3 separate regions of the Homo sapiens genome follow, and all the other regions are linked to region 1. Evidence: fine-mapped expression QTL. A gene starts in region 1. Each other region holds a variant in brackets. All regions are shown on one strand. Distances are from middle to middle.

Evidence for each region. PIP is the estimated chance that this variant, and not a neighbour inherited with it, causes the effect.
Region 2: its variant is fine-mapped to the expression of ADPGK in NK cells (Schmiedel 2018, PIP 0.95).
Region 3: its variant is fine-mapped to the expression of ADPGK in whole blood (TOPMed, PIP above 0.99).

What each region holds. Positions count from the first base shown.
Region 1 is chr15:72,780,326-72,788,506 of GRCh38, reverse strand. ADPGK (ADP dependent glucokinase) reads left to right here and starts at 4,749. Exons shown (of 7, transcript NM_001365225.1): 1 at 4,749-5,048. The coding sequence starts at 4,816. It overlaps ADPGK-AS1 (ADPGK antisense RNA 1), which reads right to left and starts at 5,672. Exons shown (of 3, transcript NR_040107.1): 1 at 3,311-5,672; 2 at 914-1,085. RefSeq lists enhancers at 4,224-4,433, 4,484-4,543, 5,304-5,373 and a silencer at 4,594-5,053.
Region 2 is chr15:72,800,829-72,809,009 of GRCh38, reverse strand. No RefSeq gene overlaps it. Among named protein-coding and RNA genes, the nearest start is that of ADPGK, 21 kb to the right of the region's middle. RefSeq lists an enhancer at 928-1,824. The variant TG/G (reference allele first, on the strand shown) is at 3,482.
Region 3 is chr15:72,728,459-72,736,639 of GRCh38, reverse strand. It overlaps BBS4 (Bardet-Biedl syndrome 4), which reads right to left. Exons shown (of 16, transcript NM_033028.5): 10 at 6,956-7,024; 11 at 5,183-5,335; 12 at 4,914-5,085; 13 at 1,458-1,527; 14 at 674-815. Among named protein-coding and RNA genes, the nearest start is that of BBS4, 46 kb to the right of the region's middle. The variant T/G (reference allele first, on the strand shown) is at 3,976.

The sequences.
Region 1 (8,181 bases):
CTACACTAAAAACGAAGAACTTTAAGCCTGCGCATGGTAGCTCACAACTGTATTCCTAGCACCTTGGGAGGCCAAGGCAGGAGGATCTCTCGAGGTCAGGAATTCAAAACCATCCTGGGCAACACAGAGAGACCCTATCTCTACAAAAATACATAAATAAGAATAATTTTTCATAGAACTCTACTCACTAAAGATATTATAAAAAGAATGAATAGACAAGTGACTGGGAGGGAGGCAAGATACTTGCAAATAACCAACAAATGGAAACTTGTCAAAACCACAGTAAGATACCACTACACACCCTACAAAATGACAAAGCTTTAAGAATCTGTTGGAGTGTAGCTGGAGCAACAGAAATTCTCATATGCTGCCAGTGGGAAGATAAACTGGCATACCACTTTGGAAAGATGTCAGATATTATATAGTAAAGTTGAAGACAGGCATATCATATGACCCAGAAATGTTACTTTGTTTCTACCCTGAAGAAATGGCTATACACGTGTACCACAGCATATACATAGCAACACTGTATGTAATAGTAAAAAAACTGGGAAAACTCCAAATCGTCTATTCATAGTACAATAGATAAATTTTAGTATTTTCATTCAGTGGGATATTACATAGATGCTAAGCCGTCAAAAAATAGAAAAGGCTACTGCATAGTGACCTATGCAGAAATGGCTGTCTTCCTTATAGTAAGAGAGTGACAGACCAGCAAGAAAGACTAAAAAGAAAATTAAATATAGCTCTCAGAACCAACCATAGCAACAGCAGGGAATGTTTTGAATTCCAGCATGTAGCAGACACTGTGCTAGACTGTCTTAAGATAACTCTACCTCCCACAACCATTCTGCAAAGTAGGAATTATTTTGCATATAAGGAAACTGAAGAACAGAAAAGTTAAATGACTTACCTGAGGGCACACAGATAGCAGGTGACAGAGTGAAGATTTGCAGCCAGGAATCAAATCCCACCTTCTTTCCATTGAAGTATGAACTGTTGATTGCAGCAACCATTCACCACCCCTCCCTTCATCCAGAACCCTGATTTTGTTAAGATGTACTGCCTCTTCCGTGCTGTCCACCCTAGGGATGGCAGAGCAAAAGACAGAACAAGCATGGGCCCCTGAGGACTCTCTCTGGCAATGCTGCCAGGCCATCCCAGTTAGATGTTTTTGCTTCCTTTTATTTATTTTTCCTTTATTTTAGTTTTAGGCCCAGTGGTTGTAGAACTGCTAGGGTTCTTGAATCAAAAAGAAAATGTAGTTAGAAGGCAAACTTCCCATTTCCTTCCAAACCATTGCAAGTAATACTGAAACCCAAACCAGATCACTACAGCAGATGCTACAAGGGCTACAACAGGACTGGTTTACGCAGCCTGCAGAAGAGAACCCAAGCAGGAAGGCCTGTGAGTGTAAAGGGCTCCAGCAGGCAGCCTGGTAGCAGTGTTCCGGGAAGCCTGAGATGGCTAAGAGCACTGTGAGGGTGGAGGCCTCTGCTTTATCCTGCCCCGATTCATTCGCCCTATGAAGCTCATAGGTCCCTGCCAGACAGAAGCCCACACAGTCCTGTGCCTCCTGCCTTTCTAGGCTCAGCGCTTCTTCCTGGTCCAAAGCAGTTAATTTCCAAAGTGAAAATTCCGGGCCACTATGTTGTCACATCCCCTCAAGCTACAACCCGGTTCCCAGTCTGTGTAGGAAGTTCTATTACTATCAAGAAACTCTCATGTTCTTCTTACTGCTTTGCTGCTGACGTTCCTCTCATCTGGCTCCTGTGCCTCAACACCCCTGCCTCTCCCCTGCACTGGCCAGAGGCAGTCCATCCTCTGAGCACTTCTAGTCCCCTCCTGACCTCACATTAGTGAGGAGGATGTCTGATTGCCAAGGGCTATGGCTACAGACACAAAGCTTTCTCTTTTCGGGGGCTGGGATCCTTTATTCCATCTCTTCAATCTCTTTGGAGTTTTCTGTAATCTTCAAAATTGTGCTCTGACTCTGGCCTTTGGGCATGGCCTGTGGTGGGCTGTGTCCCTGGCATCAACAAAGGCTTTGACACAGTGTGGCCTTCAAAGAGCAGCTTGGATGAAACCCCAGAGGCCTGGAGCTGCAAGGAAAGTGGGTTAGCCCAGCTTTCACAGGGACCATTTGGTCCCACTTTAGTTTCTGCTCCACGTGGGAACAAATGTGCCCCTTAAGGCCTTTCAGATTGCGGGGGTGACGCTGATGGGTATTTATGTTAAAGCCAAAACCTTCAGCTAATTTGGAAGCTGACAGGATTCTGCTAATTCTTTGTGTTCATACAGGATCTGCTCCCTGGCCTTCCAGGTCAGGATCTTGGGTGGGGCACCTGGAGCCTCCATTTGCCTCTGAATTTTCTAGAACCAAATTGCTTTTCTTCTCTCATTTCAAGGTCCTAGGAGAGAGAACCAATAGGAAAGGCCATGTCTGGAAGCAATTTGGGTGGGGGCGGGGGGTGTCTTGAGGCCTGCCCAGCCCAGCCCTTTCCTCTTTGTTCAGCCTAGGCAAAGGAGCCACAGCTGCCCACTCAGAGCTGTTTTAATTGTCCCCAGAAACCTAACTTCTAGAAAAACAATTGGCTTGCAAAGGATTCCAGACTCTCTGAACAGATAGATGATCAGAATCTTTTCTGATTTTCGTTAAGGAAATATTTCAAGAGGGACTGTGGCACCAAGACAGTGAATGCCTGCCCCTGAGCCCCGATGAGAAGGAATTAAGGGCCCTGTGACTCTGTATGTGACCAGAAGCCACATCAGGCTCCGCCAGGCCTGGCAACTGTCCCTGGTGTTCTGTTCTTCACCTCCTGCGGCTCCTGACTCTTCAGTTCTCAGTTGGAATTGAGGTCAGCTCTCTCGTTTCCTTGTCTGGCCCCCTTCACCACCCACAATGCAAACCCACACTGAGTGACTAACCAGCAAGAGGCCCACAGCAGGTCCCATAGCAACCAGAGGGGGCCAAGCTTGCTACCACAGCCCACAACATGCCAACACCCCATTTAGACTTTTACATGAGAAATAAACATCCACTTTGTTCAACTGCTGTTGTTTTGTCTCTGTGACTAAATCAACAATTCTGGCAAATCTAGAAAGAAGCAGAAGAATTAGGTGCAAAGTGCTGGAAGTTTAGCAGCCTCTCGTGGGAGCAAGAAAGCCCCAGGCAGGTTTCTGTCCACATCACTTTAATGTGGAGCACTCTCCTAGTCCTCTAGATCTGTCTGTTCTATCACCTTCCCACAGTTCAGCTTCCTGTGCTCCCCAAAACTTCACCTTGGAAACATATTTAACTGGTTCTGACCTTTAGCCTTGTGTGACTTTGTGGGTCCACAGCCAATATCAAATAACTACAGACAACAGAAACTTGGTTAAAATTCTCAATAGAGGGAAATGATCGCTGGACAGTCAGCAGACTCGCTGTTTTCAGGTCAGCTGCTGGCTCAGTCCCCTCTGGGTGCCAGGGAAACCTGACAGCTGAGGGTTGTGAGAAGAAGCAGTTTCTCTAGGAACTGACTGACATGTCTCCCTAAGGAGAGAGAAGTGACAGGCAACTCTAGGGAAGATGGCTTTCATGGCTTCATAAAGATCTGACTGGCTCTTTGGCTTCTTTTCCAAGGTAGCCCAAATCTGTTCCTGTGTGAATATCTTTGTCGAAAGGGATGGCATGGTCAGGTAGGCTGGGTAGGATGAACTGCGGGAAGGTAGATGACCAGGATGGGGAAGTTCTGATGAGGTGGGGCTGAGGAGAATGAAGACTAATGCCCAAGATCAAAGTTAGGGAAATAAAGTTTCGCTGCCAAGTCCAAAGGTCAGGGTCACAGTGGAAAACTGGACACAAAGCCAAGGTCAGGAGCCGAGAGAATTGGAAAAGTGGAAACAAACCAGGGAACAAGACTAGGCCGGGCATTGTGGCTGATGAGAATGAGCTGGTACCCAGCCTAGCTTCACTGTCTCTCAACCTAGCCTCATGCACAGAAAAGTATCAGCGAAGAGAGGGCTGGGTTTAAGTGATGTCACCAAGGGGGAACAAAAGAAAGCAGCGTTTCTCAACCCAGGTCCATAACTCTCGTGTTGTGCACAAGATTGTGTACATTTTCCAGAGTTTGTTAAAGGGAACAGCGCCCCCAAAAGGGTTAAAGTTTGATTGTGGAATAATCTGGTTATCCAGAAGAGAACGATCTCTGCGGGCTCTCCTGTCTCGACGAAGTCCTTTAGTGGCTGAGGGTCTCGGCCACCTTCCAAAGGGGCGGAATCCCCCTGCCTCGCGTACCCCAGGGGTCTCGGCAGCGCCGCTATTCTGTGAGCCTATTCCTCTCAGAAGCGCCGAGCACTAGGCCTGGAAGAGGACAAGTCTAGCAAATGAGGGGACACGGGCGGAGGGAGGGATTAAAAGATGGGGGTGTGATCCGTGCCAATGGGGACACCCACTGGTTCGAATATTAACGCGAGGTTTGTCCGCTTCTTCACAATCTGTCCGTTTCGTTTTACTGCGAAAGCAAATGTGTTCCCATCCCTCTATTTGGGGATACGATTAGAGTTCCGGGAAGGGGGTGCAGCGCCCGGACTGGCACAACCGCCGTTGTCCCACCTCCTCCGGGGCGGCAACACCGCAGTGCCAGGCCTGGGACTGAGGCGTGGGGTCCCCCCTCGCTCCGTCCTGGCGCCGCCCGTCGCCCCGCCCCTTGGGGGGCCCCGTGGCGCACCCTTGTGACGTAGCGCTTGTGTCGACATCGGCGCGCGCCGAGCCCGGAAGAGGCGCGGGCTAGGAAAGGAGTTGGTTCGCGCAGGTGCGGCGCCTGGGTCCCCATGGCGCTGTGGCGCGGCTCCGCGTACGCGGGCTTCCTGGCGCTGGCCGTGGGCTGCGTCTTCCTGCTGGAGCCAGAGCTGCCAGGCTCGGCGCTGCGCTCTCTCTGGAGCTCGCTGTGTCTGGGGCCCGCGCCTGCGCCCCCGGGACCCGTCTCCCCCGAGGGCCGGTTGGCGGCAGCCTGGGACGCGCTTATCGTGCGGCCAGTCCGGCGCTGGCGCCGCGTGGCAGTGGGGTGAGTGCCAACGGGGCCTGGGTCTCTGAGCCTCCGAGGTCGGCCTTGGAGGTCGGGCGGAGCCGCGCAGAAACAGGGCTTCTCAGAGGTCCCCGGGAGGCGCTGCTGTCCGCGCTGGCCCCTTGGCGAGAAGTGTCGGACGTCTGAGTGGAACCCGGTTCGTCACCGCTGCTCTTTCCACTCGGCTGGCCTCTGCGCCTTTCTCTCATCCCGGTAGGACCAGCCCTAACAGCTTCTTGCTAATCCCGCTTTGTCTGACACCTTTCTCCGAGCCTTCTTCCTCGTTCCAACTTTTAGCCCCTTCTCTTCTGGCGACTGTTGTTTTGCAATCAAAGATACTTGACCTTACCCACTATGACAACACTCTTCCTCTTTCTTCTGAACTTCTTGAAGACGCGTGATGTCTGCCTTTACCCACTTTCGAAACGCCGTGTAGTCTAGAAACCACACGACTGTACTGCAACTCCTCTCAGATTTGCCTTTTTGAATCTTCATTATCTACTCTGCAGCCTTCCACGCATTGAACACGCCCTTCTCCGTGAAATTCTTTTCTTCCCCTGACTTCAGTGACACTGCATATTTAAGGTTCTTCCAAATGACACTACCTCCTTTCTTTGTACTTTTCCTTGGGAATGTAATTATTTTCTTTATAGTATTGATACTGTAAACACTAACTTTAGTCCCTGTCTCAGTTCGATTTGACTTTCTTGCCGTAATCTCAGAGTTATGTATAACCACCACATAAAAGCAGGCCCTCTACCATGTAGCTCACTACTTTCTGTGGAGTGTTGGGGCCGGGAGGGGTAAAGTAGAGCAAACTTGGCCTGAAGATTAAATGACATCATTCATGTAATCTCTCTAGCATAGTGCCTGCTTTAAAAAGCATTCGATATTAGCTATAATTTTGGGGTTTTTTTTTTTTTTTTTTTTTGGACACAGGGTCTCTCTCTCTGTCGCCTAGGCTGGAGTGCAGTGGTGCAATCACTGCTCACTGCAGCCTCGAACTCCCGAGCTCAAGAGATCCTTCTGCCTCAGCCTCTGGAGTAGCTGGGACGACAGGCAAGCACCACCACGCCCAGCCAATTTTTTATTTATTTTATTTTTTTTAGTAGAGTCGAGGTCTTGCTATATTGCCCAGGCTGGTCTCGAACTCCTGAGCTCAAGCCAGCCTCCCATCTTGGCCTCCCAAAGTGCTGGGATTAAATTGTCCTTCCTTGCTTTATGCGCGTTCATTCAGCAGATATTCACCAACTACATGGTTAGTGTCAGGTCTGTGCTAGGTTCTTAAGATACAGAGATGGGTGAAGCAAGGCCCCTGTCTCACTTGTTGGAAACATATTATTGTATCAGTCATTTGGGCTGCTAGAACAGAATACCACAAATTAGGTGGATTAAACAACAAATCTGTTTTCTCGTGGATCTGGAGGCTGATAGTCCAAGATCAAGGTGTTGGCAGGATTGGCTTCCGATGTGGCCTCTCTTCCTAGCTTGCAGCCAGCTGGCTTTTCAGTTAGTCTGCGCATGTACACTCCTGGTGCCTCTTATTCTTCTTATGTGGACACTAGGTCCTTTTGGAATAGGGCTCACCCGTATGACCTTATTTAACCTTAACTACTTCCTTAAAGGCCCTACGTCCAAATATAGTCACATTGGGAATTAGGGTTTCAGCATATGAATTGGTGGGGGGTGGACAATTCAATCCATAACAATTATGGTTAGAAGAGGAACAACCCACGAGGACCAGGCAGAAGCCTTAATGCCTTTTACGACCTTACCTTAGAAGCACATAGGAACTCTTCTACCAGAGTCACAGGTCCACCTGGTTTTAAGGGAGGGGACATAGAACAAACCTTGATGGGAGGAGCATCAGTGTCACATTGTGAAAAGAACATTTGGAATGGGGCATCTTATTGCCACCATCTTGGAAAATATATTTTACTACAGTGACTTTCATAGGACAGACACTAAATAAATGAGATTTCTTCAAGCCAAAGTGGGAACAGGTCCACCTAGGCAAGAGAACCAAATGTGAAAAAGTACATGGTTTGTTTGGGAACAGGTCGGCCTTGTTTTGGAGCGAGAATCCTATGGTAGAGGGTTGTAAAGAGATGATGCTGAGAACGAAGGGTTGGACCAGATTGTGAAGGGCCTTTTATGGGGAAGCCATAAAGGTTTGTAAGTAGTTAACTGATGACAAGTTCTTTGTTGAGAATTGGTGGGAATGTGAAGGGTGGATTTTGAGCAGTGGTTCTAAACTGTTTCACTGCTTCTCATCATTTATTACCCAAAGAGGATTTTTAGCCCAAAGATAGGGGGATATAGGAGGGATGAGGGGGAGCAGGTGTAGTACTTGTATCAGAATCTCATTTTGAGGTTGTAGTTTGACTTCTCTAGAGACACACTCGTATTCACACTCTCTGTCACACAGACACACTCAAAATGCCATTTAATGTGATTCATAAGGAGGAATATCTTGACATCCTGACACTGGTTTAAGAGGCCATTGTAGGGTTTGTGTAAAGGGAGAAAGGAGCCCGAACCAAACTCGGCAATGATGTAGAAGAGGTGAGATTTGAGAGATAACCTGAATAATAGTTTGGATGTGGTGGAGTAAAGAAAGGCAGTCAAAAACGACAGGTTTTTAATATTGGATATCTTGTTTAGTTTTTGTTTTCTGTTTGAGACAGCATCTCACTCTGTCACCCAGGCTGGCGTGTGCAGTGGCATGTTCAAGCTCACTGTGGCCTTGACCTGTCATGCTCAGTGTCCCGAGTAGCTGGAACTACAGGCATGTACCACCACACCCGGCTAATTTTTATATTCTTGGTAGGGACAGGATTTGCCAAGTTGCTCAGGCTGGTCTTCAACTACTGGGATCAGGCCTTGGCCTCCCATCTTGGCCTCTGAAAGTGCTGGAATTACAGCTGTGATTCCACACCCAGCCCAGTATTAAATATCTTATAACAACTAATATGGTTAGGCTTTGTGTCCCCACTCAAATCTCATCTTGAATTGTAATCCCCATAAGCTAATCAAGGGAGAGACCAGGTGGAGGTAATTGAATCATGGGGGCGGTTCCCCCATTCTGTTCTCCTGATAGTGAGTTCGTTCTCATGAGATCCTTTGGTTTTAT
Region 2 (8,181 bases), 21 kb before region 1:
ACCTGACTTCCTCCCCTTCCCTGTCCTGCTTCCCTGCTTCCTTGCCCTGTTTCTCTCGGGAGCACTTCCACAACAAATTGCTTGCATAAGAATCCTCATCTCAGGGTCTGCAACAGGGAACATGAGGACATTTTAACTACACATCCTAGTCTCACAGGGAGCAGACCTCAGTGAATGTATATTAGAACAGATGGGATTGGGTGGGAGAAAACAGGGTGGAAAGGGAGACGCTGTGTACAGACAGCTCTTTTGAGGGGCTTTGCTACAGAGGGGCTAAAAACTAACACGGTCATTGGAGAGAAATGAAAGTTGTATTATATTGCTATGTAACACAGAACCTCCCAAACTTAGCAGCTTAAATTTATTATCTCATAGTTTCTGAGGGTAACGAATGCTTCAGAGCAGTCCTGACTCAGTTTCTCAAAAGGTTGCCGTGAGAAACTCCAGCTGAGGCTGGAGGACCTGCTTCCAAACACTCACATGGTGGCTGGCCAGAGTCTTCAATTCCCCTCCACTTGGGCCTCTCCACAGGGCTGCTCATGATCCTGCTCCCCCAGTTTGAGTGATGAGAGAGATAGGTGTTTTGAAATGTGTAGGCAAGAACTGGGAAGGACATGCTGTTAATAGTTGCTAAAAGTCCTTAACTCATGGAAATGGGATTGAGGAGCACAGGCCTGTGAGGATGATGAAGGCAGACTTCCACATTCTATACTTCTGAATTCCCTTGTTATTTTAAAACATTAAAGGTGAAAGCTTAAGTGAATTGGCAGTAGTTGGTAATGAGTAAAGCTACATCTACTGGAAAAATATCAATGAGAAGGAGAGATGATAAGGGCAGGAAATTGGAATTGGGTCCTTAAAAAATGTAGGTGAGTCCCTCTCCCTCTCCCTCTCCCCCTCCCCCTCCCTCTCCCTCTCCCTCTCCCCACGGTCTCCCTCTCCCTCTCTTTCCACGGTCTCCCTCTGATGCCGAGCCAAAGCTGGACTGTACTGCTGCCATCTCGGCTCACTGCAACCTCCCTGCCTGATTCTCCTGCCTCAGCCTGCCAAGTGCCTGCGATTGCAGGCGCGCGCCGCCACGCCTGACTGGTTTTCGTATTTTTTTGGTGGAGACGGGATTTCGCTGTGTTGGCCGGGCTGGTCTCCAGCTCCTAACCGCGAGTGATCCGCCAGCCTCGGCCTCCCGAGGTGCTGGGATTGCAGACAGAGTCTGGTTCACTCAGTGCTCAATGGTGCCCAGGCTGGAGTGCAGTGGCGTGATCTCGGCTCGCTACAACCTCCACCACCCAGCCGCCTGCCTTGGCCCCCCAAAGTGCCGAGTGCAGCCTCTGCCCAGCCGCCACCCTGTCTGGGAAGTGAGGAGTGTCTCTGCCTGGCCGCCCATCGTCTGGGACGTGAGGAGCCCCTCTGCCTGGCTGCCCAGTCTGGAAAGTGAGGAGCGTCTCTGCCCGGCCGCCATCCCATCTAGGAAGTGAGGAGCGCCTCTTCCCCACTGCCATCCCATCTAGGAAGTGAGAAGCGTCTCTGCCCGGCCTCCCATCCTCTGAGATGTGGGGAGCGCCTCTGCCCCGCCACCCCATCTGGGATGTGAGGAGCGCCTCTGCCCGGCCGCGACCCCGTCTGGGAGGTGAGGAGTGTCTCTGCCCAGCCGCCCCGTCTGAGAAGTGAGGAGACCCTCCGCCTGGCAACTGCCCCGTCTGAGAAGTGAGGAGCCCCTCCGCCCGGCAGCCACCCCCTCTGGGAAGTGAGGAGCGTCTCCGCCCGGCAGCCACCCCGTCCGGGAGGGAGGTGGGGGGGTCAGCCCCCCGCCCGGCCAGCCGCCTCGTCCGGGAGGTGAGGGGCGCCTCTGCCCGGCCGCCCCTACTGGGAAGTGAGGAGCCCCTCTGCCCTGCCAGCCGCCCCGTCTAGGAGGGAGGTGGGGGGCCAGCCCCCTGCCCGGCCAGCCGCCCCGTCTGGGAGGTGAGGGGCGCCTCTGCCCAGCCGCCCCTACTGGGAAGTGAGGAGCCCCTCTGCCCAGCCAGCCGCCCCGTCCGGGAGGGAGGTGGGGGGGTCAGCCCCCCGCCCGGCCAGCCGCCCCGTCCAGGAGGTGAGGGGCGCCTCTGCCCGGCCGCCCCTACTGGGAAGTGAGGAGCCCCTCTGCCCGGCCACCACCCCATCTGGGAGGTGTACCCAACAGCTCATTGAGAACGGGCCATGATGACAATGGCGGTTTTGTGGAATAGAAAGGGGGGAAAGGTGGGGAAAAGATTGAGAAATCGGATGGTTGCCGTGTCTGTGTAGAAAGAAGTAGACATGGGAGACTTTTCATTTTGTTCGGTACTAAGAAAAATTCTTCTGCCTTGGGATCCTGTTGATCTGTGACCTTACCCCCAACCCTGTGCTCTCTGAAACATGTGCTGTGTCCACTCAGGGTTACATGGATTAAGGGCGGTGCAAGATGTGCTTTGTTAAACAGATGCTTGAAGGCAGCATGCTCGTTAAGAGTCATCACCACTCCCTAATCTCAAGTACCCAGGGACACAAACACTGCGGAAGGCCGCAGGGTCCTCTGCCTAGGAAAACCAGAGACCTTTGTTCACTTGTTTATCTGCTGACCTTCCCTCCACTATTGTCCTATGACCCTGCCAAATCCCCCTCTGCGAGAAACACCCAAGAATGATCAATAAAATAAATAAATAAATAAATAAATAAATAAAAATAAATAAATAAATAAAAAATGTAGGTGACAAAAAAAAGATACATGGATGATTTTAGAAACATGTATGATTTCCTGGGAGCACGTGGTAAGCTCTAGAACTGCTGCTGACCCCTGGCAGAGTGTGAATGGGAGTTCCTATCTCTGCTAAGAAATCCCAAGGCCTTCTGGGGAGCTGCCCCATCCTTTCTGTTCCCCCACCGCAGGGAGGCATCAGCTGTACGTGGACTCCCTGGTGCTGACAGCTTAGCCCAGGAGAGGTCCTGGCTGGGTGAAAGGCCACATCACATTCTCAGAGTTGACCCCCAGCTCAGAAGCTTCCTTTCTCGGCATGCATTCAAGGCCCCTCATCATACACTGATATGGGGCCCTCAGGAAGGAGAAGGGGCTGCAAGGCTGGTGGAAATGAAGGGGCCGTGGGGAGCTAGACTTGTATCAGGACAGTAAGAGAACAGAGAACTTGGCGTGAAATGAGAGCTGCATGGCACAGGCAAAAGTGCTCACACAGAGACTGAAAAAGACTGTGGGGCAGGATTCAGCCTCGTGGTTACCGGCACCACTCTTAGACAGAGGCAAGAGGGGGTCCCTACCCTGAATCTGGTGACTCCAGTGACTCGAAGCAGTCCTCCACAGAGAAGTGTGGTCGGTGGACCAGTGCCAGCCCACACGTGGTCTGTTACTTGTTCTTGATGAGTTACACACAGAAACTAACAGTAAGGTTATATCTGTTGAATCTTTAAAACTTGGGGCTTGTAACTTGTATAGATTTTTTTTTTTTTTTTTTTT[TG/G]AGACAGAGTCTCACTCTATCGCCCAGGCTGGAGGGCAGTGGTGTGATCCTGGCTCACTGCAGCAGCCTCCTGGGTTCAAGCGTTTCTCCTACCTCAGCCTCCCGAGTAGCTGTGATTACAGGAACCCACCACCACGCCTGGCTAATTTTTGTATTTTTAGTAGAGATGGGGTTTCACCATATTGGCCAGGCTGGTCTCAAACTCCTGACCTCAAATCATCCACCCACCTCAGCCTCCCAAAGTACTGGGACAGGCGTGAGTCACCCCACAGGTCCTCATATAGATTTTTTTTAATTTCATTTTTCTAGTGAATTATTTCTAGTGAATTATTGAATCAAATAATTGATCTGTATTGGGTTGGGAAATTAAAAACTAATAATTAGAAACTAAGAAGCCCTACTTGAAAAGGTTGCATATATCACAAACACCCATAAAATGTATTGGTTATGGAGCACATGGGATCGAGTGCTCAGCGCTGGCATAGCGCTGCTGGCAACAGAAACGTCAGTTCCAATGACAACACCGGTCAGGTCCCAGGGAAATGCGGCTCCTCACCTTTTGCCCTGTGTCCTCAAAACAGAAAGCAACCATGTCTGAACGTCACGGAGGTTTCTGGGTTGTGCTTCCGCCAATATTGGAGACAGACACTGCTTCAGAGAACAGGGAGGATTTGAGTGGCGGAAGCACTTAGGTAAGGGAAAAGACAAATTTATTAGCTTGTCAAATCCTTTATCTCTGATAGCAAGAACGCAATCGTTTCTTGCACAGTGAAATACCATTTCCCAGTAGGGCCACACGTCCATTTTCATGTTTCTCTTTGTGCTCCAGTTCGTGGTTCAGGAGGTCTCATGAATTAGTGTGGTATTGATTGTTGTACAGTGGCTGAGGAACATGTGTGCAATATGAACACTTTATTTTACCTTCAAATCAGTAGAGGTATAAGTGTAGATGTAATATGTACGAAGCTATTCTTCATGTTAGTGCATAAACTATTACCTTAAAAGATAGCAAAAATTGCAGTATGATAGAAATTTCTATTATGAAGTTAAAATATTTTGTAGTATTTTCTGCAATAATTACAGTTTACCTAACACAACTCTACTAAAGTATTTGAACAGGATATGTAAAATTCATGGTTCATTTCCAAATGTAAACATCGTTTTAAGATTTTAATGAAAATTCCATTTATTCCTGAAACTTTCTCCAAATTGAAATTAATTTTTTTAATTATCTAAGAATTACAACTCAAAAAAGGTAGTCTAATTTGGCGTCATCATCAATAAAACACAAATTGTGCAAAAATCTTGATTATAACAACATAATTAGGTAATTTTGCAATAAGGAAGGTAAGAAAAACAAATCTAATGAAAAGATAAATAATAATTTGAATGATTTACAATATAAATTTGGTATATGCTGACTTTATAACTTACCAAAACATCACCAGCCCATCAACAGAATATCCAAATAGATGCACACATAATTAAATTCTGTCATCTTTACTATTTTACCAATTTTTGTTCATATAAAAATCGTAGTGCTATACTTTTTAAAAATTTTGATCTTAAGAGGGCATATTTTTCAAGACAGAAAGATGGAACTTTTTATCTAATAGTTTATTGGCCTAGTTTATGATTTTAAATATTTATACATATGCTACGGGGGCTTTCACTTAGTGTTAAAGGCCTGCTTAGGGCTACCTTCCTAAGCTAGGCCAGGGCTGCCCAACAACTGACCGAATGTTAGGGAATTGACTCTATATTTTAATTCACCTAAGAGAGAGCAATTTTTAGGTAGACAGAGATATGACAAACACAAACTTCAGAAGAGAGGCATGATTTTTAGAAATAATTATTTGCAATTGATTCCATGTCTCCTTTGTTCTTCAGTTAGTAGAGATATTTGCCTGCCTTTGGCTTAAGAAAGCCATTTTAAATGAGACCCGCAGTGGGTGTCAATAAGAGCTACCTCTGTGATCCTTTGTTGATGTCACTTCTTTGATACTGGAGGGATAGGAACTGAGTCCCGCCAAGAGGGGACATGGGAATGTCTGAACTCTAAATAGTCACTTCTCCAAAGCCTGCTCTGGAATCAATGCTACTAGCTCAGGCTAGGAGGAAGAGGGCTTCTCATCATCCATGACTCTGCCCACCCCACTCCCAGACCACCCCCTCCAGATGTGAAGACCTCCTGTGAACCAGCAAGAGTTTACCCCAGCCCTCTAGACTGTGAGCCTCAAGGGAAAGTACCACCATTTATACCATTTCCCTGCTGAGAGGCACAGGCTTTGTTTTCTGTGTGTGTGCATGTGTGTGCATGCATGCACACCACGAATGCACCTCTGCAATCAATGCTGCAATAACCACCCTTCTACATGGACCCTTAGGTGGATCCTTCTATTTCTGTGGAATAGATTCCCAGGAGTGGGATCACTAGGTCAAAGGATATATGTATTTTTAATTCTAATGGATTTTTCCAGATTGATTGCAAAAAGGCTGTAATAATTTACATCTCCACCAGCAATGAATGAGAGCATGCTCCCCACAACCTCACACACAATACCTATAGAAACTCTTTTTAATTTTGCCAGCCTGAAGAGCATAAATGAGTATCTTATTACTACTTTAATTTGCATTCAACTGAATTCTAATGAATCTGAGCATCTTTCCATCAGTTGGATATTTTTCTTCTTTGAATCACCTACTCATATCATTTTGCCTATTTCATTATTGGATTGTTTGTCTTTTCGCATCAATTTATAAGAGTTTTTTGCATACTATAGGTATTAGCCTTTGTCCATCATCTGCATTACACTTTTTCCAAGTCTGCTTGTCTTTTGACATTGCTTACAGTATCTTTTCCCACAAAAATGCTATATATATGTGTGTGTATGTATATGTATATATATGCAAAAATACCTTTTTCATCTTCTAGGTTTCCAACCTTGGTTGAGAAGGTATTCTAACCTTAGATTATATGATGCCTCCTTGCCAAAATTTTTATTGAGATATATGTATGAAATAATGCACATCTTTTTATGGATCAATAAATTTTCACGAGGTGAACACACTCATGTAGCCAGGACTGAAATCAGGAAACAGAATCTTACCAGTACCCTAGACATTCCTTCAGTTCACACCCCCTTGCCAGTCACAACCGTCCTCAAAGATTAACCTCTACCCTGACTTCTAACATCGTAGGTTAGTGTTTGAACATTATTTAAATGAAATATCCATGTGTACTCTTTTGTATCTAGCTTCTTTGACTCAGCATTATGTTTGTGAGATGAATTCATGTAGTTCATTCATTCTCGTTGCTGTGCAGCAGTCCTGTATGTAACATACCACACTTTATGTTTTACTGTTGATAGACGTTTGGGTTGCTTCCAATTTGGGGCTATTACAAATAGTGCTGCTATGAACATTCTTGCAAACTTTCTTTGGTGAATTTATGTCTGCATTTCTGTTGAGTATTTACCCAAGAGTGTAATTTTTGGGTCATAGAGAACGTGTATGTTCAGCTTTTGTGGATATTGCCAGTCATCCAAAGTGGCCGTTATCAATTACACTCTCACCAGTAATGTAAGAGACTTCTAGCTGCTCTACACCCACCCCAATACTTTCTATCATCTGACGTTTGCATTTTAGCTACTCTGGCAGGTACACGCTAATGTTGCATTGTGGCTTGTCTTGACAGATAGTTAACATTTTATTTTTTACATTTTTAAGCCCTTAATCCCTCTGGAATTTTATCTTTGTATATGGCTAGAGATAGGGGTTCACTCTGGTTCTCTTCCAGGCAAACAGCCAGATGTGTTAGACTAAATACTATGTCCTTTGTCCTGATATGTTTTGAGGTATAAGTGAGCATTTGCCAGGTACAGTGGAGTGGGAGAGAACATTCCAGGCTGCAGGAGCTGCACAAGCAAAGGTACGGAGGCACGAAGTATCACGATGTGTGCAGGAGATTGCATGAGTGTGGTGAAAATTAAAAACGTGTGGCCGTGAGTGGCACAGGAGGGCAGGCAGGACTGGACTTTGCCATTCTCACGGTGGTACACAGGCACAAGGCTGCTGCTGAATGGACACACTAAAGGAAAAAAGACTCCCTCCTCCTCTAATGTTTGGGGATGTTCTTTGAGATCCTCATTTTGAAAAGGTGTCATTATCAAAACGTCACCCTTAAGAGAGGGAACTTCTGTGTTGACTGAGACGCTTATTAAGATCCATGATACGTATTGTTTAATTTACTCATCACAATGACTTCATGATGTGGGCGTTGTTTCCCTTGATTTACAGATAAGGGAATGAGGTACAGAAAAATTAAGCAGCTTGCCCTTGGACACATAGCCAGTAAGTGGCAGAATTAAGGATGAAACAGCCTGTTCCTCTTCCTGTGTTCCCGCTCTTTCCCCTAGATGCACTGCCAGTAGATGCATGAATTGAACTTCCAGCCACTTCCCAAATAATGCACATGTGATGAAGCAGAGATTTACAATCCTTGCATCAGCCCCTGCCAGCAGACCTCTTGATGTCTGTTTCCTTTTCCCCAGTCACACAGAGAGGTTGATTCCTTGGGAAACTGAATGACTGTTGCAGGCAGCAATTGTTCCTTCAGCTGAAAGGCATGCAGAGTCAGACCAGGGTGGCTGGCTTCGGCCCATGGGCAAGTTTATGGGTCCGCAGAGAGAAGGCAGCC
Region 3 (8,181 bases), 52 kb after region 1:
GGCAGGAAGTACTTATCAAACAGTAGAGATTACAGATTGCCTTTACTGGATGGCATGGTGGTTCACATAGGATCTCAAAACCCAACAATTCAAGCCTGGTGCATTACCGGGCCAAACAGTGCATTTCCTACAACAAGTGAAATAGGGCTGGGCACGTGGATCACGAGGTCAAGAGATCAAGACCATCCTGGCCAACATGGTGAAACCCCGTCTCTACTAAAAATACAAAAATTAGCTGGGCGTGGTGGCACGCGCCTGTAGTCCCAGCTACTTGGAAGGCTGAGGCAGGAGAATTGCTTGAACCCAGGAGGCGGAGGTTGCAGTGAACTGAGATTGCGCCATTGCACTCCAGCCTGGGCAACAGAGCGAGATTCCGTCTCAAAAAAAAAAAAAAAAAAAAAGTGAAATAGAAGGAAGCTACAGACAGACACAGACCTCAACTTTGATGAGTTGAATTAGCAATAACAACTCAGTAAGCCTGAATTTCCTTTTATTATTATTCTAGGAAAGTTTTTCTCAGGCTGTTATTAATTGATGAACTCATGCTGCTAGGAACATCAAAGCCAGAACAGCCATGAACGTGTAATACCTTGGATTTGGATGATCTGGGCTTGATTTTTAAAAGTCTCCTGAGAGCTTACTTATGACTCTTGGGAGCTAATAAAAGACATACCTCAGAGTCAAATTCCAGAGAGCTATTGTCCTTGAGTAGGCTGACTTTCTTCTCCATCTCCTGATATTGGGCCAGGGCGTTCTTCTTCTCGCCCTGGTTGTACAGCAGCACAGCATAGTTCAGGTTTACTAAAGGGTTACACCTGTGGCAGACAGAGATTCTATGGAGCTGGGGGCTCTGCAACAAATGGTCATTTAGAGATCCTTCTCATTACACAAAAACAAAACAAAACTGGTTAAGTAGAGATTTCTCCATTATGCAGCAAGGTAGGTACATACGTGCTAAGCAGACCTGTGGAGAAGAATCAAGGAGTTAATGGCCTAACAAGCAAAGCTGGTATTGGGACCAAATCTGGCATCTCAGCCCTCAACAGAGACTACCTAGGCCAGGGTTGAAAAAGGGATCTCTACCCTGCTGTCTAGAAGATGCCAGCGGAGTAAATCCTGGAAGAGTCAAGTTTTATCTTGAATTAAACAGCCCAGAGTCCCATCTGATATTCCAGCTAGCCCATAGCTATCAGCAACCCAAGCCCACTGCCAGTTCTGACATTCTCTAGCCTCCTGATTACTCAGTTTAGGACTGGAAACATTTTCTCAGAGTGTCAATTCCTGCTGAGCCACCACATACTTAGGAGACACATCCCTCCACACTGAGGTCTGCTATGTACTAATGCCATAGAGGAACAGCTGGGCTGACACAGGCAGCACCAATGCTATGTATGGCACCACCTCATGGCTTTGGAGAGTCCAACCCCCGCCAGTACCATTCTCAACAAAGTGCATACTTATCCAGGTGGACTGCTTCTGCGTAGGCTCTCTTGGCATTTTCTATATCTTCCAGATTGGTCAGAGCCACTGCAACAAAGAAAGCACTGCAGCTGGAGAGCTCAGCTTAGAAGACAAAAGGAGTATTAAAGACTACCCCCAAAGTAAACTTCACCCTGTCAGCTCATGGCACCAGAGTTTACTAAGTCAGCTTAGATACCTGGTGCTATCTTCAACCATCTCTTCTACAGTCAATCAGTTGCCAGGTTCTATGCATCCTTTTTTTGCAGTTTCTTTTCTGACACTGCCCTTGTTCAGGCCCAAGTAGTTTTAGGCTTTCCATTTATTCCCCAGTGTCAAAGTCCCCACCTGCCTCCATTCCACCTTCCACAGCGCTGCCAGGTATCTCACTGCCTTACAAATCTGACCACATTACCATCCTACTTAGGAATCCTCACTGGCCCCCCACATCTATAACCATGATCTTTACACTTTCATTTAGCAGTAAAACACTCCCCCCACTTTTTAAAATCAGTATTTCCTTGACACCTAATATATAAAACAAAAACAGCTGCTCTGGAAGCCCTGCCCATTCCACCTCCCCACCAGCTATGCACTCACTCCTACCAGGCACCTAAGAGGAGATCTAGGAAGACAGCTGGACAAACATGGCCTCTAAGATAAAGTCCTTGCACTGTACGCATGACCTCCATAATCTGACCCCAGAATATCTTTCCTGATTCATCTCCCATCATATTCTCTAACACTAACCCCCACTAACAGCAAGGGACACTGCAGTTTCATGGCTGCATGCCTTTCTTCACAGTGGCTCCTCAGCCATTCTGTGCTATTCCATTTTAGCTTGTTGTTCAGGATCCAGTTTGAATGCCATCTCTACTTTGTAAAGTTAGCATCGCTGTTATCTCTTACATTATGGCTGTTTACATTTCTGTGTTCCATTAGAACCCAGCTATCTAAAGAAACTATCAACACAGTAAACAGACAATGTACAAAATGGGAGAAAATATTTGCAAACCATGCAGGTCTAATATCCAGGATCTATAAGGAACTTAAGCAAATTTACAAGAAGAATACAATCCCATTAAAATGGGCAAAGGACATAAACAGACACTTCAAAAGAAGTCATGTATGCAGCCAACAAGCATATGAAAAACTCTATCACTGATTAGAGAAATGCAAATTGAAACCACAGTGAGATAACCATCTCACACCAGTCAAAATGGCTATTATTAAAAACTCAAAATATAACATCCTGGTGAGGCTGCAGAGAAAAGGGAATGCTTATACACTGTTGATGGGAGTGTAAATTAGTTCAACCATTGTGGAAAGCAATCTGGCAATTCCCCAAAGAGCTAAAAATACAACTACCCTTCGACCCAGCAATCCCATTACTGGGTATATGCCCAAAGGAATGTAAATCGTTCTGCCATAAAGACACATGCATGTGTGTGTTCAATGCAGCACTATTCACAATAGCAAAGATGTGAAATCAACCTAAATGCCCATCAATGGTAGACTGGATAAACAAAATGTAAATGTACACCATGGAATACGACACAGCCATACAAAAGAACAAGATCGTGTCCTTTGCAGCAACATAGATGGAGCTGGAGGCCACCATCCTTAGCAAATTAATAAAGGATAGAAAACCAAATCCTGCATGTTCTCACTATAAGAGCTAAATGATGAGAACACATGGAGACACAGAGGGAAACAGACACTGGAGCTTACTGGAGGAGGGGGAGGGCCAGAAAAAAATAACTATTGGGTACTAGGCTTAGTACCTGGGTGATGAAATAATCTGTACAACTAATCCCCATGACACACGTGCCTGTGTAACAGGATGCACATGTACCCCTGAACCTAAAATAAAATTTTTAAAAAAAGAGAGAGGAATGGAGTCTCACTGTGTTGCCCAGGCTGTACTCCCAACTCCTGGGCTTAAGCAAACTTCCTGCCTTAGCCTCCCAAGTAGCCAGCACTACAGGTATGTACCATCACACCCCACTTTAGCCTTTTTATTCTGATGTTTTGACATCTGGGGCCTTACTGACCCTGGGGAGACTGTCCCTCCCACAGTCAGCTAATTCCTAGATATAACCCCTACAAGAGTACCTTCTGTATGCAGACCGACCAACCCAGTGTTCATATTCTTAACTGCCTCCTTTACTGGGCCCTGACACTGGGCCAATATTCCCTAGTCCTAGTCACCCGAGGGTCAGGTACCAGACACCTAGAGACAGCCCTATAGCCCAGAGCCCACTGAAATTATTCAAACTGGCCAATCCCCAACCTGGTTAACCTGCTTTCCCGGTCTTGCCCCGGGGAGGGCATTTCTACCCATGAAAACTACAATAAAGAATTGTGCCCACATTTACCCCTTGCTCCCTCTACCTCCTGATTGACCTGGTGCTTCCCCATGTGGCCCTGCACGGTGTAGCATGCCCTCCTTCTCAGGAATTGTAACAGACTATCTTTCCAGTGGCAGATGTCTTCTGATCTGTTGCCCATACCATA[T/G]CTGAATAATAATAAAACCTATGTTTTTTTTTTAAAGTTATCTTTGTATTCAGGCAACCCTCAAATAACCACAATTGCTTTTGCAAGCTTTCTCTTTTAAATAAGAACCCACAGTAATGAACAAAAAGCCACTGGAAGACGACTGCCAAATGAGGACATGGAAATCTGCTTTGGGTCTTACATTTAGTAAGTAAATGTATATGGAGAAAAAAATTCCTAGAAAGACTAGTCAGTACTTTAAAATGGTTGTGCATAATTGTTAAAGTGTTTGATTAATTTTAACTTATTTTTATGATCAATTTTAGTATTTGCATGGCATAAAATGGAGTTTCAGGAAGAGAATGGCATTCTATATAACATGCTCAGAAGAGATAAGGGTTTCAACATAAGGTAGCTTGACTTGGAAGTATCACCTAGGGGCCAATTATAGTAACAACAATATTGATAATAATAGACCAATTATATAACCACAGTAAAACCAACAGTTTTCAAAAATCAGTATTTCAACAAAACCAGTATTATTAATTGAGAGCTTAATCATGCAATCCTCACATCAGCCCTAGGTACATATAATAAGTAGTAGAGGCAGGACCCTACCTAAAACCCAAGCTCTTAACACTTGCTGTCTGGAACTTAGTTGGACTCAATATATACATAAATGAATTGTCAAGGCAAGAGGAAAAAACTGGTAAAAGGTGAACTAGGGATGATCTTTATTTAACCTGTTGGTCTCTGAGTCAAACTCCCCCAAGTTAGAAACAACCAAGTTCCTTTGTCATCTTTTTCTATTTCTTCAAGCTCCAGGACAGTAATCCAGATTCCTACAGGATCTCTAAGGGAATGGCTCCTATGAGACAGCCACTGATCTTCTATGATTCTAATCCATTTTTCCCTCATTACAGATGGCAGAGAGAGTTTTCCACATAAATGTTTCTTACCTGCCAAGAGCATGTAGAGCTCCCCCATCTTTGGCTGGAAGTTGATGGCCGCACTGAGAAAATGAAAAGCTGATGCATACTGCTGCATGGTCAAATGGACAAGGCCCAAATTATACAGAATCTTCCAATCAAAGGGTGCCAAGTAGTTGGCTCGTTTCAGGCAGCTGATGGCCTATGAGAGAGAAGGGGCACTCAATGAGAAGGGCAAGCTAAACAGACCCAATAACCACATGTAGAAATACAAACAAAGAACATGAGGGGACACTCACCGCCACATATTTCTTCTTGCCAAAGAAACACATTCCAATGTTATTCCAGAGTGGAGGACTTTCTGGAACAGCACAAGCCACAACTCTGTATTTGGTGAGGGCAACATCAAAGTCCCCGTGGGTCTGCATCATGCTGCCTGCTGCCAAGATGGCCTGAAAACATGGCACAGAGAAAGTCATTCAGTCATTCCCAAAAGGCTGTAGCAGTGGGGCAGCTTTCCTGAGTCTATACTCAGCAGGCCCATCAGCATAGATGGGACTGGAAAATTTCTTCCAGGGACATAAATATATCCAACCTATTGGGACAAATGTTCCTGAGGAATGTCCTTGCACTCTACACTGTGGCTCTCTGGCACAGCACAAAAAAAAAAAAAAAAAAAAAAAAAAAAAAAGATAAAATGTTACTTGCTTTACCCATCTGTTTCCTACTTCTAGCCAGGAAAGTCAGTATTTCAGAATGAATACCAGAGCCCTTTAAGTAAAAACTTCCTTTAATCTGTTCTCTGCAGCCCCTATTTGGTATACCAAGTGTTCTAGATACCTGAAATACACCTGTACGTGGCTACTTAAGGTAAATTTCTTTCTACCGTAGAACAGAGGGCGAGTCAGCTTTAGGCTTCATCAGCCCAGCCCTTTCATTTCTCTAAGGAAAGGTATCAAGGTGGGAGCTGACAGTCTAATGTTACTTCCTAAATCAGAATTCAGTTTGTATCCTTTAATAAACAGCTTGTCTTGCTGCATCTCCTCAATGATGTTCATCCATTTGATGCTATTCCTTCTCATTCCCAAAGTCACATCTAGAAAAAAAGTTGTAGTATCAAATCATTAGGACTCTAGAAGTCATTTCAACATAATTATTGTTTCTTTTTAGAGACAGGGTCTCTGTCACCCAGGCTGGAGTATAGTGGTGCCATCATAGCCCACTGTAGACTCAAACTCCTGGGCTCAAGTGATCTTCCCTCTTCCACCTTCCGAGTGGCTAGGACTACAGGTGTGTGCCACCATGCCTGGATAATTTTTTTTGTAGAAATGGGGGTCTCACTATGTGGCCCAGCCTGGTCTTGAACTCCTGGCCTCAAGTGATCCTCCTGCCTCAGCATTCCAAAGTGCTGGGATTACAGGCATAAGCCACCATGCCCAGCAGATTTATTTTTTTTATTTTTTATTTTTTTTTTTTTTGAGACAGAGTCTCGCTCTGTCACCCAGGCTGGAGTGCAGTGGCGCGTGATCTCAGCTCACTGCAAGCTCTGCCTCCCGGGTTCACGCCATTCTCCTGCCTCAGCCTCCCGAGGAGCTGGGACTACAGGCGCCCGCCACCACGCCCGGCTAATTTTTTTGTATTTTTAGTAGAGACGGGGTTTCACTGTGTTAGCCAGGATGGTCTCGATCTCCTGACCTCGTGATCTGCCCACCTCAGCCTCCCAAAGTGCTGGGATTACAGGCGTGAGCCACCGCGCCGGGCCGCAGATTTATTTTTGACAATAGTTGTGGAGGCATTGCTAATTTCCTAAGTAACACATAAGCTTTACTAGCACTATGATCTGCCTTCTGCAGGGGTTACACGTCTATTATAACAAATGTGCACTTTTAGAAGATAAGTAGAGCATACTTGACACTATTTTCAAATAAGAAGAGCCACCTTTTATTTATATTTTTTCTATTTCTCAGGTATCCAAATTTAAGAAGCTATTCCTTTGCTTTCCAGGGTCAGATCACCTCTAGGAGCAGTGGGACCGTCTATATGAAGGCCAGAGCCTTCACAGCCTGTAATACCTTGTAGTTGGTAGGGTCATAAGTCAGTGCATTGCCAAGATGTTCAAATGCCTTCTGGTAAATGCCGAGCTTGGAAAAAAAGCAAACAAGACAATTTACATCAGCAAGGAGACGGCAGTTAAAAGAGTCTGGCCAGACCAGGCGTGGTGGCTAATGCCTATAATCCCAGCACTTTGGGAGGCTAAGGTGGGTGGATCACCTGAGGTCAGGAGTTCGAGACCAGCCTGACCAACATGGAGAAACCCCATCTCTACTAAAAATACAAAATTACCCAGGCATGGTGGCACATGCCTGTAATCCCAGCTACTTGGGAGGCTGAGGCAGGAGAATCGCTTGAACCCAGGAGGCAGAGGTTGCAGTGAGCCGAGATCACGCCATTGCACTCTAGCCTAGGCAAAAAGAGTGAAACTCCGTCTCCAAAAAAAAAAAAAAAAAAACAGTCTGGCCAACCTCACCCAGAACAGAAATGCTCTGGCTTTTTTGAGTTCTCTTGACTTTAAAAAAAAAAAAAAAAAAAAAAAAAGCAGCTACAGTTACCAGATAATAAAGAAAGAAAACTAAAAATCCCCAGTCATGGTTTTCCTTCTATTTTTGTTAATTTGTCACCTGATAAGGTCAAAGTATCTATTTGATAAGAACCATCTCTGCCACACTAGTACTGTTCCACATTAATGCCTCTTTGCAGGAAATGAGCTGGGTATCCTCATCTCCCGTGGAGCCAACCTCCCAAGCCAAAGCCCAGGAAGACCCAGGGTTAAGCTCCTGATTCCTTTTAAAGAAAAATGAAATAGACATAAAGGCCACCACAGAGGCAGGGCTGGAGGCAGAATCAGCTGACCAAGGAACTTGGCAAATGTGTATATTGGGGAAGAGGGAAAAGCCCCTTGGATACCTGGGCCCTGGGTCCTCAGCCAGAGAATCAATGGAGCTAAAAGAATCCCATTCACATTCAGGAATGTTGAGGGGACAGAAAACTTCTTATTCTAGATAAAAGTATACTTTGCCTTCTCTCTTTCCAATAAGACTCTGGCTGGGAAGAAAGATCAAAAGAAATGGCTTTGCCCCAAAGCCCTAAGTGCTCACTTGTATCTGTTTCTCTCCTCACAACAAAATAACAGCCTCCAAGACCAGAGTTATTTCTCATATATGCTCTTTCCTGGATAGCATAAGAATTTTTTTTTTTTTCTGAGACAGGATCTGGCTCTGTCACCCAGGATGGAGTGCAG